2 separate regions of the Homo sapiens genome follow, and region 1 is linked to region 2. The links come from fine-mapping of genetic effects on gene expression. A gene starts in region 2. The other region holds a variant in brackets. All regions are shown on one strand. Distances are from middle to middle. Region 1 has its middle 14 kb from the start of KIF27. Region 2 holds the start of QNG1 (Q-nucleotide N-glycosylase 1).

Region 1 (4,390 bases), 22 kb before region 2:
CTATCAGATTATCCTGAAATGCAGTTAGTACAGGAATAACAGAATAAATGCTTTTTTCCTTTTTATTTACCAATTTTCAGAATTACAAATTGGTCCCTACCAACCTTCAAAATCAAACAATACGGTTTCTTTTTTTGGAGCACGTGTGTGGTAGAAGGAGGGTAACTATGAACTCATAGTTTTTTTTATATTTTTTTACTTGCTTTCAAAATACTATTTTTGGTTCTCAAAGTATTTCTAGGCTTCTCTCTAAATACCATTGTGACCTATTTGTTTCTTCTCACTTTGACTCAGGCTTCGTCAAAGTTATTGAGCCTTGGCTGGGCACAATGGCTCATGCTTTGGGAGGCTGAGGCAGGAGGATTACTTGAGGTCAGGAGTTCGAGACCAGCCTGGGCAACCTAGTGAGACTCTATCTCTACAAAAAATAAAAATTAGCCAGGCATGGTGGTGCACGCCTGTAATCCCAGCTACTTGGGAGATTGAGGTGGGGGAATTGCTTGAGCCCAGGAGGTTGAGGCTGCAGTGAGCAGTGATCAAACCACTGCACTCCAGCTTAGGTGACAGAGTGAGACGCTGCCTCTAAAAAACAAAGCAACACTTTTTTTTTTTTTGAGATGGAGTCTCGCTTTGTCACCCAGTCTGGAGTGCAGTGGCGCAATCTCGGCTCACTGCAAGCTCTGCCTCCCAGGTTCACGCCATTCTCCTGCCTCAACCTCACAAGTAGCTGGGACTACAGGTGCCCGCCACCACGCCCAGCTAATTTTTTGTATTTTTAGTAGAGACAGGTTTCACCGTGTTAGCCAGGATGGTCTTGATCTCCTGACCTTGTGATCCTCCTGCCTCGGCCTCCCAAAGTGCTGGGATTACAGGCGTGAGCCACCACGCCCGGCCAAAGCAACATGTTTATGTTTTTTTAAAAAAGGAACAAAGCTGTTGAGCCTTAATAATTGCATTCTACTCCTGCAACCAAATACAGGTTAGTATTCTATATCAACTGACTCTTAGTCTATCTTGAGAGTGGCAAAATGGGAATGGCGAAGAAAGGGAGAGAATTCCTAGGTTTGTCCTGTCTCCAGACAGGAAGTTGGATTAGTGCTTTCTTTTCCTTTTCCTTTTTTTTTTTTCTTTTGAGACATAGTCTGGCTCTATTGCGCAGGCTGGAGTGCTGGAGTGCAATGATGCAATCTCAGCTTGCTGCAACCTCTGTCTCCCAGGTTCAAGTGATTCTCCTGATCTCAGCCAAGATCGTACCATTGCACTCCAGCTTGGGCAACAAGAGTGACATTCCATCTCAAAAAAAAAAGAAAGAAAAGAAAAGAAATATGAGGTATGGTCTTTGTGCATTTTAATCCCTAGACTGTAACTAGTTACATGATCATGGCTAAAGCCAGCTCTATCCCTGGGCTTATTTTGTTGATCACTACAATTGCTTTTTCACTATGCTAGTTTTAGTTTGATTTATTTCATTTAAAACTAAAACATCCTTAACCCAAAGGGATAAAAGAAAGGAAAAGATACACAGTGTATGGAAAAAAGAGAAATTTAGATGAATGGCACAATAATATATTTCTCCAAACTTCCAATTGTTTAATCAATAAATTGTATACCTGCAAGGAATTTTACAAATTACAGGCATGCATCACATAACAATGATTTGGTCACCCATGAACTGCATACACCATAGTATATGGTATCCCATGAGATTATCCCATCCCAGTGGGACAAGACCAGACACAGACCCTTCAATTCCTCATTCTTTTTTACAATTTTTTTTTTTTTTTCCGTAGAGACGGGGTCTTGCTATGTTGCCTAGGCTGGTCTTGAACACCTGGGCTCAAGTAATCCTCCTGTGTGGGCCTCTCAAAGTGGTGGGATTACAGATGTGCATCACCATGCTCAGCCCAATTCCTCATTCTTTGTCTCTCTATTAGAACTCTTTGTCCACCTAAAACCAGCATGACACAGAGATAAATATTTCCTGTTTGGCAACTGACTGAGACTTCTGATTGCAAAACAATCCCACATGTAAGTCCTCCACCTGTAACTTGTATACTCCTCTCTATAAAAGTCTAAGGCAAAACCACCCTGCCAAGAGACTCTGATCTTTGGATTTGGAGTGCTTTTCCTATTGTAATAGCCTGAATAGATCAATTCCCTTACTTGTTTAGGTTTTGTATTTGACTATAGCACCCACCAAAAAGCTGGAAATTTTAAACTAAAGCAAAAAA[C/A]AGCACACCTCGAGAAAGACGGGTCACAGAGTTGCAAGGAAAAGGAAGGTCTAGTTGCCTCAAAGCTGATCCCCTAGGTCATATACAGTCATTAAATCCGCATCTGGGGCAGACTGGGGTGCCAGCCTGACTAAGCCATTATCCATTCAGCTTCAGGGGAGGGGACACTGTGAGGAAGCTCAATACATGATTTCTGAATTGAATGAAACAAAATCTATTAATTTGCCTTGGTGCTAATTAGGGAGAAGTTTAAGGTTGATAAAGGAAAAAAAGCAGCCCCTGATAAAAAGCTGGCCTGGCACCCACAGCTATACCAGTTAGTCTTCTGTTGGACATAATCACTTTCCTAGCCTTCTTGGCAGTTAGTTGTGGTCACGTGACTAAATCCTAGTAAGATGAAACCAAAGTGGAATGTGGTGGCTACCAAAGCCTTTCTTGTCAACCCTTTGTTTTTTTCTTTCTTTCTTTCTTTTTTTTTTTTTTTAGAGACTGGATCAGAAAGGTTACTCAGAGACCATGATAAAGTAAGACTAAATAAGGCCACTTCAGAATTTTGCCTAACCACAGAAAAATACAAGGGCATCGTGCCGTACAAAGTACCCAAACATCCTATCTCCACTAAAATGAGTGACTGCTGACTTCTTTACCAATGACAGCTTTATCCTTACTCTTGTCTGCCCTCCCTATAGAAAAAATTTGAGGCAGTCAATGGTAGAGCAGCCAATAGTATAACTGATCCTGCTTTCTGAGAGTATCCAATCTCAACAGAACAGTTTCCTTAGACCCTGCCCCAAATAATCCTCCTACTGAGTCACCCCATGCTACAAGTAATAAATCTAACCTGTTTACTTTGGTTGGAAAGCATTGACAAGGTGCCTTGGCTAAACAACTTGAGTTCATAGAGTGAGGCAAATCATTAGGAGGCCTCTGAAGAAAAATAATTGAAATTTGTTTACAAAACAAAATATTTTATAACTGATGGCAAATCAAAGGCTACTAAAGGAAACTGAGTCACCAAAGAATTAGAAAAGACTTCTCTGAATGGAGGACTGTGCCAGGGAGTTTCAGGAGGCTGTGCACATTTTCATTACCTTTAAAAGGGTGTGCAGAATGAATCAACACAACTGAAAACACTTTCAGAACTTAATTCTACATTCCATTCTCTTCTGGAACGTCAGGAGCTAGCCCCATGTTAATTATGTTCCCCCAGACTACCCTGAAATCCAAGAGGGATGTTATCTCCACACAAATCCCCAAAAACCAAAAATGTTAGAACTAGAACACTACCATTTTGCAATCCCTAATGAAATAATAGATCTGAAAAATAATCATCCATGGCTGTTAAAGCCATTAGGCAAAATGTTATTTTAATGCTCTTAGTCTGTATCAGGTAAGAAAACTATAAAATCCACTTAATGGGTGGCAAAAACTTCTTGCTGTTTCCCAGTATCCACCCATACTTTTTTTTTTTCTCGAGACTGGGTCTCACTCTGTTGCCCAGGTTGAAGTGCAGTGGTGATCATTGCTCACTGCAGCCTCGACCTCCTGGGCTCAAGCGATCATCCCGCCTTTGGCTTCCCAAAGTGCTGGGATTATAGGAATGAGCCATTGTGCCCAGGCCCATCCATACTCTCTACACAGTTTAGCTGGTATCCAATGCCCATAATACATGCCACTTTCCTAGCCTTCTTGGCAGTTAGTTGTGGTCACGTGACTAAATTCTAGTAAGATGAAACCAAAATGGAATGTGGTGGCTACTAGAGCCTTTCTTGTCAACTCTTTTTGTTTCTTCCTTATTTTTTTTTAAGAGACTGGATCTCGCTACATTGCCCAGGCTGGACATGAACTCCTACGTTCAAGGGATCCTCCTACCTCAGTTCCTCCCCACCACACAGTGGCTGGGACCATAGGAGCGAGCCACTGCACCTGGCTTCAACCCTTTCTTTCTACTCTTCTTTATTGCTTCAATCCTGCTGGCTAGATTAGAATGCAGGCATCCAGGATTGATTCCAGGTTATGCTCAGTGGCAGAAGAGAAAAGGCAGCTGGGTCTGGGAAACCATGGCTCACAGCTGTAAACGCGGTGCTTTGGAAGGCCAGTGGCAGGAGGACTGCTTGAGCCTAGGAGTTCGAGACCAACCTGAGCAACATAGTGAGACC
Region 2 (4,390 bases):
TTAAAAGGAAAAAAAAGGAAGTAAAGAATGAAATATTGATTAGAAAACATAAGAAATGAGATGAAACTCCATCTCTACTAAAAATACAAAAAAACTTAGCCAGGTGTGGTGGCATGCGCCTGTAGTCCCAGCTACTCAGGAGGCAAAGGCAGGAGAATCGCTTGAACCCGGGAGGCGGAGGTTGCAGTGAGCTGAGATAGTGCCACTGCACTCCAGCCTGGGAGTCAGAGCAAGACTCCATCTCAGGGAAAGAAAAAAAAAAGGCCCGGCACAGTGGCTCACGCCTGTAATCCCAGCACTTTGGGAGACCGAGGTGGGTGGATCACGAGGTCAGGAATTCAAGACCAGCCTGGCCAACATGGTGAAACCCCGTCTCTACTAAAAATACAAAAATTAGCCTAGCGCAGTGGCGGGCACCTGTAATCCCAGCTAGTCGGGAGACTGAGGCAGGTGAATCACCTGAACCCGGGAGGCGGAGTTTGCAGTGAGCCAAGATCGCGCCACTGCACTCTAGCCTGGGTGACAGAGTAAGAGTCCATCTCAAAAAAAAAAAAAAAAAAAAAAAAAGGAAAGAAATGACGCCAGCGTGGTGGTTCACGCCTGTAATCACAACACTTTGGGAGGCTGAGGCGACCAGATTACCTGAGGTCGGGAGTTTGAGACCAGCCTGGCCAACATAGTGAAACCCCGTCTCTACTAAAAATACATAAAATTAGCCGGGCTTGGTGGCGCATCCCTGTAATCCAAGCTACTCGGGAGGCTGAGGCAGGAGAATCGCTTGAACCCGGGAGGCAGAGGTTGCGGTGAGCCAAGATCACGCCACTGCACTCCAGCCTGCGCAACAAGAGCAAAACTCTGTCTCAAACAAACAAACAAAAGAAAACATAAGAAATGACTTTGAAACACTACTTGATTTTGTTAGTTTCTTCCACAAGGAATACATTTAAAAATTTAAGTTTTTATTCTTAAAATGAGTTCTGGAAGTAAAAGAGTTAACTCTGAGATGATTAAGACTTCTAAAATCCCCAACAGAAGCAACTCACCTCAAACAGAGTCACATCTCTGTAAGAAGGAAAACTTTCAACCACCAGGTGCATTAACTTCTGCGCACTATTCTCACTTTCTCGGACGCAGTTGAGAAAAGAGCCTCCAAACTTCTCCAGCAGAATTTTCCCGGTTTCATTGAGAATCCGATGCCTCTCTTCTACTAAAGGCATGGAAACGTCTGTGTCAGAACGAAGTATATTCCGAACCTGATCCAGGGTCACTGTCGCGTAGTACGAGGCACTAGTTATTGGTATCCCTTTAGTGAAAAAATAAAATTCAGAGGACCAATGTCATACTTCCATATGCATTAAACCCTTGCTTTTACAACATGGAATTAATATGAAACCAAATGAGTGGTATAGGAATGCACCAAAAGTGGAAGAATAAAAAATCTAAAGCAAAACTCATTTTCTACTTGTTCATCTGTACTTATTCACCCATTTCTAACTATTGCAATATTACATCAGATGTATTCTGAGTAAATTGCTTTATAACATCGGTCCTTTTGTTCTTCAGGTGTCATTCAAATGGCATTCTTTATAAAACTGACTTTTATGCTACTGTAACTTTTATGCTGCAATGATAAATATTAACATCATTTTCCACTAAAATATGCCCCTTTTCATACTTCTATTTTAAGCATAAGGACTTGCAACGAACTTCAGGTTCGCTTTCCATTATTCCATCTCCCAACCCGCTCCTTGGAACTCCCCTACACACACCCCAAGTAAATGGAAACCTCAAAGGCCGTTAGGTCCGATGGCAAGTATGGCACCAACCTTCGTCGAGGGCTCTGTTGACGGCGGCGCACAGGGACCAGTACCCACTGTATGTTTTCCCTCTGTACCTCACCACACACTTGTGCTCGTCCTGCTCCGACCAAAAGGAGAAGTTGAGCGTGTCTGTCACGAACACCCAGTTGACCGCGGCCTCGTCGGCCGCCCTGGGGTTCAGCTCATGAAGGGCTTTCCACCCCTCCACGCGCAGCTCTGGCCCCGCCGCCTTGGCCAGCAGCAGCTCTGCCACCCTCCGTACGCCTCCGCTGTCAATAAACACATCCCGACTGTTTTCTGCAATGAATTTAGAGGATTCCCTGGGATTTAGGAGCCCGTCCATTCTGCCCTTTGGGACCCGGCGGGCCAAACTCTTCCCGCCCTAGGCGGGTCAAGGTCCACTCTGCGCCTTGCGCTACTACGAACCGCGCGATCACAGGGCCTAAACAAGGTCCCGCCCTGCCAGGGAGTGGCACCGAGAACTTAGTGCAGCCAAGGTAAAGGTTCTCTCCCGCGGCGTTGCCCTGATTAGGAAACCAGAGAGACCCCGGGGCAGCTCGCTGGGCAGAGGCCGCAAGCACTTCCGGGAAAGCGGTCCCGTTCACGCCCTCTCGGGCGCGCTCTCAGGCTCCGCTTCCGGTTCCAAAGGTCTGGAAACTGCTAAGGGTCCGGCGTTCACCGGCCGTGAGTTGCCCACCCTGGGAGGTGCATGGCTTTGCCATGTTTTGCCTTTTCTCACCCCGCTTCGGACAGGTGGGACTCGAAGACGGCGACTCGCCGCCTTGCCCTGGGTCGCGATGCCCCCACCCCGCTCCCACCCCTCTCCTTTCCCGCAGCCTGAGCAAGACGCCTTCGGCAACGCCCCGCATCCGGGCTCCTTGGCCTCGAAGAGCATTATGGCCGTAGATCTGGGTGCTGAGGACTGAGCCACCCCCAGACTGCGACATGGGCGGCGGTGCCTCCTTCCCCAAGCCCCAGGGAGTGTTTTTTTGTTTGTTTTGTTTTTTGTTTTTGTTTAAGTGAATTCCTGGCCCATTTGGCCGAACGAACGTTAGGATTAGTTGGAAGGTTTGGAGAAATGGATGAGGAAACAAATGTGTTAAATTGTTAAATTAACCTTGTGTGCCTGGCAGTGTACTTAAGTACTAAATCTCACCTAGGCTGGGTCATGACGAAAGCGGCTATTGTGATCCCGCTTTTGCAAGTGAAGCTGAGTGGTTCATTGATTAACCCCCATCACAGCAATGGTTTGGGCTAGGATTTAAACCTTTGATAATTGAGCCCCCTAAATCGAGGGCACTTTATGAGCCAATCACCAGTGCCAACCATTCTGGTCAGTCAAATAGTGACTATATCAGTGGCCCTACTGAGAAGACATTAAAAATGAGGAAATAAGTGTCTCACAACTGCAAACTTACACAAGTACCTTATATTAGGAGAGAGGTGTAGAAGCCAATTTAGTGATGATCCAAATTTGACTGGTGATGAAGTTTTAGTATAAAGGTATGCATTTTTTTTCCTTTTGGAGACTTAAATCTCCATGGATAACGTTCACATCTTTGAAAATCACCTATTAAAAATAATCATCAGTACCCATCTCTAGTTACCGACAGGAAAATCTTGGTATTTTTGGAGGATTCGGAGCTTTTAAATTTGTTTGTTTGAGACAGAATCTCACCCTGTCGCCCAGGCTGGAGTGCAGTGGCATGATCTCAGCTCACTGCAACCTCCACCTCCCCGGTTCAAGTGATTCTCCCTGCCTCAGCTTCCCAAGTAGCTGGGATTATAGGTGTCAGCCACCACACCTGACTAATTTTTGTATTTTTAGTAGAGATGGGGTTTCCCTATGTGGGCCAGGCTGGTCTCAAACTCCTGACCTCAGGTAATCCACCCTCCTCGGCCTCCCAAATGGAGCTTTTTTTTTGAGACGGAGTCTCACTCTGTCATCCAGGCTGGAATGCAGTGGCACAGTCTCGGCTCACTGCAACCTCCGCCTCCTGGGTTCAAGCAATTCTCCTGGCTTAGCCTCCCGAGTAGCTGGGATTATAGGTGCCCGCCACCACGCCCGGCTAAGTTTTGTATTTTTAGTAGGGACAGGTTTTCACCATGTTGGCCAGGCTGATCTCGAACTCCTGACCTCAGGTGATCCGCCTGTCTTGGCCTCCCAAAATGCTGGGATTACAGGCATGAGCCACCACACCTGGCCCCAAATGGAGCTTTTAAATTTGACAGCTGTTACCCTAGAAAAGCAGATCTTCATCACTCCAGTTTCTTCATTTTGGTAAGAAAAAGGAACTTTAAGGACTCCACTATGATACGTTTTCCAGAAAAAGTCACTAGTACATTAATACAGTTGTTAAGGAAATGTAAGTCTGTTGGCTTGGGATTTTTCCTTTCTACCACAGCACCTAAGTCTTGGGAGACAAATTGATTTAGCAAGGAAATCTAGCAATCTGCAAAATAATCCAGAAGGGTAAATAACTTAGACCCTTTTCTCTCACTGAGGTTTATTGATAGAAAAAAGTCAAATGCCGGCCAGATGTGGTGACTCACGCCTGTAATCCCAGCTT

The links. PIP is the estimated chance that this variant, and not a neighbour inherited with it, causes the effect.
Region 1: its variant is the best candidate, but not a certain one, in a credible set for the expression of QNG1 in blood mononuclear cells (TOPMed, PIP 0.65).

The regions. Positions count from the first base shown.
Region 1 is chr9:83,932,793-83,937,182 of GRCh38, forward strand. No RefSeq gene overlaps it. Among named protein-coding and RNA genes, the nearest start is that of KIF27, 14 kb to the left of the region's middle. The variant C/A (reference allele first, on the strand shown) is at 2,232.
Region 2 is chr9:83,954,338-83,958,727 of GRCh38, forward strand. QNG1 (Q-nucleotide N-glycosylase 1) reads right to left here and starts at 2,405. Exons shown (of 4, transcript NM_032307.5): 1 at 1,827-2,405; 2 at 1,044-1,303. The coding sequence starts at 2,163.